Linked DNA regions of Homo sapiens: all the other regions are reported to be linked to region 3. The links are microRNA targets in miRTarBase. Many come from high-throughput screens and were not tested one by one. Region 3 holds a microRNA gene; each other region holds the end of a gene's coding sequence.
The links. The annotated mature microRNA hsa-miR-548as-3p reads UAAAACCCACAAUUAUGUUUGU and lies in region 3 at 2,002-2,023, shown strand. An mRNA with a match to its seed (bases 2 to 7 or 8) in the 3' UTR can be bound and repressed. Matches are read on the target gene's strand: a 7mer-m8 pairs with bases 2 to 8, a 7mer-A1 pairs with bases 2 to 7 and ends in A, and an 8mer does both.

Region 1: the mRNA of TCEAL4 is a reported target of hsa-miR-548as-3p. The part of its 3' UTR that is shown has no 7-base or 8-base seed match.
Region 2: the mRNA of GPR157 is a reported target of hsa-miR-548as-3p. Seed matches in the 3' UTR shown: 7mer-A1 at 1,542-1,548 and 7mer-m8 at 634-640.

What each region holds. Positions count from the first base shown.
Region 1 is chrX:103,586,853-103,590,209 of GRCh38, reverse strand. TCEAL4 (transcription elongation factor A like 4) reads right to left here. Exons shown (of 3, transcript NM_001006935.3): 3 at 2,481-3,357. The coding sequence ends at 2,887. Among named protein-coding and RNA genes, the nearest start is that of TCEAL4, 3.0 kb to the right of the region's middle.
Region 2 is chr1:9,101,599-9,104,598 of GRCh38, forward strand. It overlaps GPR157 (G protein-coupled receptor 157), which reads right to left. Exons shown (of 4, transcript NM_024980.5): 4 at 1-3,000. The coding sequence ends at 2,821. Among named protein-coding and RNA genes, the nearest start is that of GPR157, 26 kb to the right of the region's middle. RefSeq lists an enhancer at 2,501-3,000.
Region 3 is chr13:92,488,198-92,491,554 of GRCh38, forward strand. It overlaps MIR548AS (microRNA 548as), which reads left to right and starts at 1,966; the gene lies at 1,966-2,023. The region is part of intron 7 of GPC5 (glypican 5); the gene reads left to right. All of the region lies in intron 1 of GPC5-IT1 (GPC5 intronic transcript 1), which reads left to right.

The DNA.
Region 1 (3,357 bases), not on the chromosome of region 3:
AATGTAAAAGTACCATTTACAATAGCAGTCCCCAAATGCAGAATGTGAGAAAAGAATTTTAATGTATCACAAATGTATGAAACAATCTCACTGAAAGGGATGGGGGAATAAGGTACTGACATAGGTAAATTTGGAAATGAGTGGAGTCTGTAAGACCAAAGGCAAAAGGAACTGTACATAGCACTCTACTCCAGTTGATAAAGTTGTTTTCCACAGGGGCACAGGTTTACAATTTTGAAGCCACTATATATTTATATAATTAATAAACAATTAGTAAAATGGATGGCAGATAGTAGGAGACAGGTTTCTCACAGTTGGAGTAGAAGGTTACAAATAAGCAAGGGGAGGCTAGAATGATCCATGCAGTAATAGACTGTAGTTGGAGACACTAGTATAAATTTATGTTTAGCCTTATATAAATACAGATGGTTATATACAGAAATATTTATATTTCCATAAATACTTTATATATGTATGGGTATTATATACACATATATCTTTTTGCTATGTCAACTGAGAGGGCCTAGAAGCAATTATATTTCAGCAGCAATCAGTATGTCTAGCACCCAGATCTTGTTTTTCTAACACCATTCTCCAACATAAGATACCAGGGCTACTTGGAGAAATGGCTAATTCTAGGACTTGGGCAATATGAAAGATAAAGCTATAGCATCTTGTAGTGCCAGAATGTAAGTAAATACTAAAAAAAAAAAAAAACCCTCTACAACATAACAATGGAAGCGTGTCAAATGAATACAGGAGCCAACTGAAAGCTCCCAATGACCAAAGCTGGAACAATTTGAGCAAAAACATGTAAAGTAGTATTGCGTTAATCCAAAGTATAAAATAGTCATGAGTCTACATTGATACAAATAAACTGAATATATAAATAAGTGGGGAATAAGAGTCAAATATCCTCTGCAGAAGGATTCCAAATAATTTTTGTCAATACTCTGCCTTCAAGGAGGTAATAATGCCCTACTCCTTAAGTGTGGGCTGCCAATAGTGACTTTATTCCAAAGAATACAGTATGGAAAGGGAAAAATAAAACTTAACCTTGGAGAAACCTGACAAACACTACTTCAGTCAGGTTACCAAGGATAAGAACAGTGGTAAATATATTGATGGTATGTCCCCTTTATATGATGAGAATGGCATTTTACCTCTGGTCTTCTTCCCAAAACACATAATGCCTGTGTAATCACAAGACAAGCAAACCCAAGTTTTGGGACATTATACAAAATACCTGACCAATACTTCGTAGAAGTGTCAAGGTCATCAAAAACAGGCAAAGTCTGAAAAACTCTCACAGCTAAGTGGAGCCTATGGAGACATGACGACTAAATGTAACCTGAATGGGATCCTGGAACAGAAAAAGGACATTAAGGGAAATCCAAATAAAGTACGTACTTTAGTTAATAATAATGTATCAATATTGGTTAACAGTGACAAATGTACCATACTAATGTAAGATGTTAATAATAGGGGACAGTGCATATGGGATACTCTGTACTATCTTTGCAATAATTGTGTAGATCTAAAACCATCCTAAAAGTTTATTAAAAAAAAATACTGTAAGGAAATAAAAAGCTACTCAAGAGCCAGGGGGAAAAAATCACATAGGTAGATGGGTCTGTTGAAATAGTAAAGCAGGGCTTAACAGAAATTTCCTGGGAGACAATTCCTAAGAAAAAAGTGTTAGCAGACTAGAGATTAACAAATGAGAATAGCACACCATCTCGTCACTCAGCTTTTCCTCCTGGCTCAATCTCCACTATCTAAATCCGGTGGAAACGGCTATATGCAAAAATATACACAAATCAACAAAAAACATGGAAAGCAGTGTTTTGTAAAAACTTCATAAAACATCAAGGCCCAAGTGACAATTGGGTACTAACAACCTGAGTTAGGATAATTCTATTGTAGGTAGAGAGGGAATTCTCCACTTTTCTGTTGGGACAGTGTTGCTTAGTCCATCATGGTCTTCAGCCCACCAGCAGCAGCTGGGGCCTTAGGAGGGTGCAGGATCCATGAGAAGGGGCACACTACCTTTCAAGTATGGCATTACCCAGGAAGAGTGGCACCCATCTCTCAGCTGTCTGGACTTATTTCTGGGCACAGGTGAGACCCTCCTTCAGCCCTTCCCAAGTATCTGACTGGGCACTGGTTCTGCTAGTGCAAGGGGAGAGAGTAGGAGCCAGCCTAACACAGCTCACACACTCAATACCTCATTTGATCTTCTCCACATGTCTAGGCTAATTTTATCCCCATTTCACAGATGTCAAGGCTGTCCCTTACAGCAATGGCTCTGTAATAACCATCGAGTTGACTCCTCCAGCTTCCAGTCCCAGAGGTAATGCAACTTTTACCTATCATTTTATGTCCTCACAAGAATTTTAAGTATATCCACTGTCTTTATAAGTTCACTGGGCAGTTCATTTGAATGCTTATTCAAATGAATGAAATTCAAATATTCACTGTTTTCCAATACTTTATATTTTATTATTTTTATGACTAAAGAAATCTGTTTTTAGGAGAAAAATGGACAGATGAACAAAAAAGAACAGAAAAAATCACCCAGAGATAACCACTGTTAATCTTTTAGTGGACACAGCTTTCAGAATTGTTTTCTATACTATATTACTAGGTAAGTATCTTTGTAGTTTTACAAAAATGTACTGATGCCATATATTTGGTTCTGCAAGTTGTGTTTTTTAATTTTACAATGCACCATCAACATTTTTTCCATGTAACAGATGAACATTTCCTACTGAGAACACTGCATTGCAGATAGGTCAAAAGGCTGCTAGCAACAGGAGGGATGCCTAAAGTAAAGTATTACCGTAACGTTAAAGCACATGGCCTGGTAAATGCCTGCCAGGGACACTACACATAAGGAATGTCTTCAATGTCCCTTCGTGGGGCCCTGCAGCCACCCCTGAATTCCCTTGGACCTCTAGGGTAGAAGGGGTCCTGTAAATTTCTTTGCATCCACAAAAACGCCCCCAATTTCTGTTTGCTTTTTCTCTTCTCATCCTGCACCTTAGCCATATTGTCAAATTCTCTTATCATGTCCTCATTGCTGAAATTCATATCATGTATGGCCTCTTTATACTCCTTGAGGTAATGAGCCAGCCCCTTATTAGTTTTTCTTTTGGCTTTCCTGGGTACATCATCCTCAGCTGGGCGCTTTCCTGCAGCCCTTGTTTCACTCCCTGGCTCTCCTTCACTCTCTGGCTTTCCCTCTATCTCTGGTTTTCCCTCTCTCTCTGATCCTCCCTCCATCTCTGACTCTCCCTCCCTCTCTGACTTTCCTTCTTTTGCCTCTCCCTCACTCTCTGGCTTTCCTTTATCCTT
Region 2 (3,000 bases), not on the chromosome of region 3:
TAGAGATACCTGATGTATAACTTTTTGGAGGTTTTTACAAAAGCAGATACAGTGGCCAGTGGCATCAAAGAAATGGAATGAGAACTTGAGCCCAGGCACCCGGAGCAGGTATTTTCTGAGCCCTCAGCTCCCTCTACAGGCCTTTCCTGACCACAGCCAGTCCATCTGGGGAGCCATGTCTCAGCTCTGGCTTGGGTACAGCAGGGAGGGCTCCAGAGGCCCCTGCTGAGCAGGGTTGATCCTAACACTATTCCTCTGTGGCCTATATTGTCTTTTCTCTTTTACCTGTTAATCATGTTCTCTTTTGCAGCAAGCAAATTCCTGAATTTTCGCTCCCTTCTAGAAGCTCAAGTGAGGGTCTTTACCAGAGACATACCCAGAGATTTGCTGTAACGTCTTCAGGGGAATCCAGAATTCACTTACAGAGGCTATTTCTGCCAAGTGGCTTTCCCTGGAGCAGCCCAGAGCTCTCTTTCAATCCTAAGGGGATGTCTGTCTCACTAATTTCCATCAAGAAATCTGTTTTCTTGGACAGGCACAGTGGCTCATGCCTGCAATCGAAGCATTTTGGGAGGCTGAGGTGGGTGGATCACCTGAGGTCAGGAGTTCGAGACCAGCCTGGCCAACATGGTGAAAACCCGTCTCTACTGAAAATACAAAAAATTAGCCGAGCATGGTGGCGCATGCCTGTAATCCCAGCAGCTTGGGATTGGGAAGCAGGAGAATCGCTTGAACCTGGGAGGCGGTGGTTGCAGTGAGTCAAAATTGCACCACTGCACTCCAGCCTGGGCAATAGAGTGAGACTCCATCTCAAAAAAAAAAAAAAAAAAAAAGAAAGCGACAAAAAGAAATCCATTTTCACAGGAAACCAAAAATGAGCATTTTGGACTCAGTCTGCTAAATGATTATTCCTTTCCTGATACAGATTTTGGTTTTGAGAGTCAAACAGGGATCGGCAGCACAGCGTGACTTCGGTTTTGATTCAGAACCATTTTACTAGGCTCAGAAAATCATGCTTTGTCGAGTTCTGATGGATTCCAAGGGAAATCACCTATCAGGTAAAGCTGTACTTTCTCTCACCAAGACCCTGGAGGTAGCATTTCCACTTCCATTCTTTGCCGATGGCTCCTGTGACTGAACACAGAAGCTGTTTTCTGAAATAAGACGAAAGCGTTTGTGGAAGACCCACAGAATAAAAATAGAGATACAGGTGCTTACTTTCAATTCTTTTCTTTTAAATGTAAATAATCGCTCCATGCTCCATGCCGCCACTTACCTCAGCTGAATACAAAACAGCTGAATCCTTTTGAATCCTTTGTTTTTTTCTTTTTTTGAGACAGGGTCCTGCTGTTGCCCAGGCTGGAGTGGCAGTGGTGCCATCCCAGTTCAATGAAGCCTCAAATCCCTGGGCTCAAGGGATCCTCCCGTCTCAGCCTCCTGAGTAGTAGGGACTACAGGCACGCACCACCACATCAGCTCCGGGCGACAGAATGAGGCTCCTTTTTTAAAAAAAAAAAAAAAAAAAAACTGACTCTGAAGCTTAAAACCTTCACCTTTAGGAAGAAATCGTATTTGTTTGTTTGAGACCGAGTTTCACTCTTGTTGCCCAGGCTGGAGTGCAATGGTGTGGTCTTGGCTCACCGCAACCTCCGCCTCCCAGGTTCAAGAGATTCTCCTGCCTCAGCCTCCCAAAGACCTGGGATTACAGACGTGCATCACCATGCCTGGCTAATTTTTGTATTTTTAGTAGAGACAGGGTTTCACCATGTTGGCCAGGCTGGTCTTGAACTCCTGACCTCAGGTGATCTGCCTGCCTTGGCCTCCCAAAGTGCTAGGGTTACAGGTGTGAGCCACTGTGCCCGGCCTGAGGAATCGTATTTGGATTACTCATCTCTCCGGCCACTTTACTTACAAAAAACTAAACTAAGAAGTAAATAAGCCAGAACCCCTCCCTACTCATCCCCTTTGGTCTCCCCAAGAAGAGGAGGATTCTAAGAAAGGAGCTGGAGAGACAGTGGGGTCTTCGGGGGTTCCCTGAGACGCCTCTTCCTGCCCTTGTTCCAGCTTTGGAATTGGAAGGAGGGAACCTGTGTCTGAAGTGATTGACAGGTGGGGACAGGAGTGTGGATTCTGGCCTGTGCTTGACACTCAAACCCAAGCTACGGCAAGGGTTAGCAGCCCATGGAGGGAGAGGCCAGGAGGCCCGGGGAGACTGCTGTCCCTGAGCAGCTGCGCCGGGCTGTGCTTGCCCCTGGTGGTCACCATGCAACCTCAGGGGAACCTTCAACCTGGTGAATGGCAACTGGTTCCTCTGTTGAGCAAAGTCTCCAAGGAAAGCCGGGTTCTCCAGAGAATCTTAACACCCTGACCAGCCGGGAATCTGCTCCATGATGTGTGGATGGGGACACATCTCTGAGGGCCCCTGACAGCTTATTTAATCACACAGAGGATAGGTGCACAGATGTGGGTCCCTCAGATTGTAAACAGTGCTGTGTGGTCCTCAGGACATCAAGGTCCACTGGGTGGGGGCACTGTGGCCACAGCTGTGGGCCACCGGCTTCCCGAATCTCACTGCTACCCTTATGCAGATGAACGCCCACCCGTGGGCCAGGACGCTGGTACCGGTGGAACTTGCTGCCTGAGGATCTAGGAGGTAGAAGAAGCTGAGTTGGCAGCTGCTCTCCCAATGGAGCCGAGAGCATCAATAGCGGGGGCTTCTGGTGCAGCAGACATGCACTTCTGCCCCTGCAGCAGGGACTCACAGAAGTGCCTACCCCCAGGAAGGCAGCACCTATGCACAGAACTAGAAAGGACAAAAGCTCAGGTGCTTGGAAGTTCCCCTGGGGTCCCTTGGGATTCCTGAGATTCTCCTGGCTTGGAAGGCGCGGGAGCCTTGGGAGTGCCAGCCGGGCTCTTGGTGGGAGGCTGAGAAGAGCAGCAGCAGCAACAGAGAGAGAAGAGCCGAGTTCGGACGGCGCGGGTGCAGAGGACGAACATGAT
Region 3 (3,357 bases):
ATTTTTTTCTAACGTGGCTGTGACTAATTATTTAAGGATTGCAAACTTACTAAACAGTCCAAAATCTTTCAAACCAATTTAAATCAAAGCATAATATTATCGAAAGATTTAAATTTATGCATCACTTTTCCGTGATGGAATGCTAAGTAGATCCTATCCAATGCTTACTTCAGATCCACTTCATTTCCAAAATGCCACTGAAGCATAAGTTAATTAAATTACATAGATTCTAGGCAGTGATGGGAAAAGTAATATTTGATTAAGTGCATATGCCTGCAAAAATCCCTCCGTTGCCATACGTGCTGATACATCAGCTGCTTAACTGCTGGCATTTTTAATCTATCCAAAAGGAAGACATATTTAAGTAGGTTAGTTATTCCTTGGCTTGTGAAGTGCTATCATTTTTGTTGTTTGCTAATAGTCCTGTAAGGCAGAATTCATTCAAAGCCAGACAGGAAATGCAATGACATAAAACCTGGTATTTAGAGTGCATATGCTCAGAATTCACAGCGATACTGTGTCGTAGGTGGTGGTTTCTTGCAGGCATTGCATTTCTCTTGATTCATGATAATGTTTGAAGCTTTGAAAGTGAAATTGACTAAAATTAATTCTACTTGTGAAACTGCCCTCCGGAAAACTGTTCATGTCTATGTGTATCAATGTGCTAACATAGCAATAGCATTTAAAGGCTTGACAATAAAGGCAGTTACTAACAAATAAAACATTAGAAAGGGCTTTTTTAACAAGTAAATTTCAGGGGAATGGTTTCAAGTTTAGACAGAATTATATACAAGTTCCCAGATGTTCATATAAATATTAATATATCAGTTATTTTCTATTTGACTCAATTATGCACAAATCAGCACATAATAATTTAATCAAGCTCTTCATCTCTCTTTGACAATACATTGCATCATGGAGTAGAGAAAGAATGTGAAATTCAAGGTGGCTAGTCTACTGCTAAACTCTGATGAAATGACACAGAATAATGATTTAACCACCAAACTAAGAAAAATCCTTCATTTTCATGTACATTTTACCTATGTCCATTCACTTATCTAATGATCCTATACATATTTATCAAGTATTAGTATGTGCAGGGCTATGTCTTCGTTGCTAGAGATACATCTTGTGACTCACCAATTCTCTGTCCTCATGGAGTTTCTATTCTAACGGGGAAACAGAATACTGGCAGAAAACAAACCAGTAAATACATCATGTGTCAGATATTGATGAGACACGTGGAGAAGAATTAGGCAAGGTAATTTGCATAAAAATTGTGAGATGAGATGGAGTGCTGATGTTGTTATTTTAGTTGAGGGATATGGACAGGGTTACTCGAAAGGTGGTATTGGAGTAGATAACTGAAGGAAGTGAGAGATACCCACGTGGATACCTGAGGCAGGGCTGCTCTCAGAAACTCACCTAGAGTTTGCCATTAAGCTTGCCATTACTACTTTCAGAAGAACTCAGAATATTAATTTACTTTCTCCACATTCCCTACAGTATGGATGAAGAAATATCACCACGTTCTTTTGTTTGTCTAGACACACAAAATATCTACAGTAGTTGGAGGTACAGACAGAGCTGGGACTAAGGCTTGATTCACCTATTCATAAGCCAGGAAGGAACTCTTGGTTGAATGTAAAAAACAAAAAATATGGTCATATTGCAAACAGAAAAAAAAAAAGTCAGCTTCTAAAAGGATAAAATATAGGGCAAGTTTCTTGGCAGGATTTTAAATGATTCTGTGGAACTTCATTATGACATATTTGTCCCTAAACATTATATGTAAGTTTTTATTTTTAACATGTGCTTCTTCCTCTTAGAATGTCTGTTTACATACTCTTCTTGTGCATTTTAAAAAATTTATCTATAATGTGCAGTTAAACTTTTCAGCGCATTGTTTCCCGAAAACTCCAAGCTGAATTGTTCTCGGTTCTTTGTGAATTATTAGGTCAGTGCAAAAGTAATTGCGGGTTTTGCCGTTGCTTTTAATGGTAAAACCCACAATTATGTTTGTACCAGCCTGATCCTAAGCAATCTCATTATCGTCTAGATTCTGCCACTTTTCATTGTATTATTATATCTATTTTTTCACTAACAGAAATAATTTTTAGTGTCCCTAATGTTTAGTGTTGTGCATATTTTAAAATCTTAATGTTTTCCAAATAAATAAATGAACACGAGATTAACTTACAGGTAGAAAAATGTATAAAACCTCATCAAAAATGATGGCTCTCTAATCAGTATCCTTGCTATACATTGTAAAGGGACATTAAGTATCCACCCAGCCTTTAGAGGTGGAAGACTGGCTCTACCACTTAATGGTTGTATAATAGTAAACACTTTGGTAAGCCTCAGTATCCTGAGTTCTAAAATAAACATATAAATGGTGTTTGTCCCAGTGGTCTGTTTAGGGTCACAGTGACTAACGTATATAAAAGATATAAAAGTGTTTTGTAAATTTTAAAGTGTTTTTCACCTCTTCATTTTTATGACTAATTCTAATATTATCTTATATTTGAAAAGCATAGGGACATAGGAAGGAATTAACCGTGTAACAGATAATGAACTAAAAATTTTCTTAAAAATAATTGACTGAAAAGATATATTGGGTTGAACCTATACTAGTATAAATAGTAGTTCAATAAATCCAAGCTAATTATTGGAGGCAAGAAAACTACAGTGGAAATCTTTGTACTTATCATGAAAGAAGCCTTGTAAAATTTATACAGGAATAACTGTCAACTCCATCACATGCAGGGGGTACAGAATGAGGTAGAACAAAGACAGATACCTATGGAAACTGAGAAGGACTCAGATGGTCTCGTTACTATATGGAACCAAGTTTCTGCTTAGTGACAAATCAGAAATTTATTATGTTTTCTTGTCAGGAGATGTGTACTCAATTGCTGATTATTTCAGAATTAAACCTATGCTAATGGTTTACTATCAGATCCATGTTAATTAAAAATTTAAACTTGAAAATGATTCTGAGATGTCCTTGATATGTGAAGTGCTATTTTAATTTGTTTTGAAACATTCTCCATAATTACAAGCTATACAGAAAAAAAGATCTGATTTTTTTAGTCTTCAAGTCCACAAAAATAGGGACTAATAAAGAAAAGGAAGAACCAGAATTACTTTATATAATTCAGTCAACTTTTTGACACACTTGTAAAACTATTATATTTTAGAAATGTGCAATTAATAGGCATTTTCATGTTTTATACACATATTAAGATGGGTAGTTTTTGTTTTGATGCTATAGAAACATATTTGATCAATATTTTCTCATGGTAAAGCAAAGATTTTCTCAACACACATCGGCAGCACGTTCTTCACATTCATTTG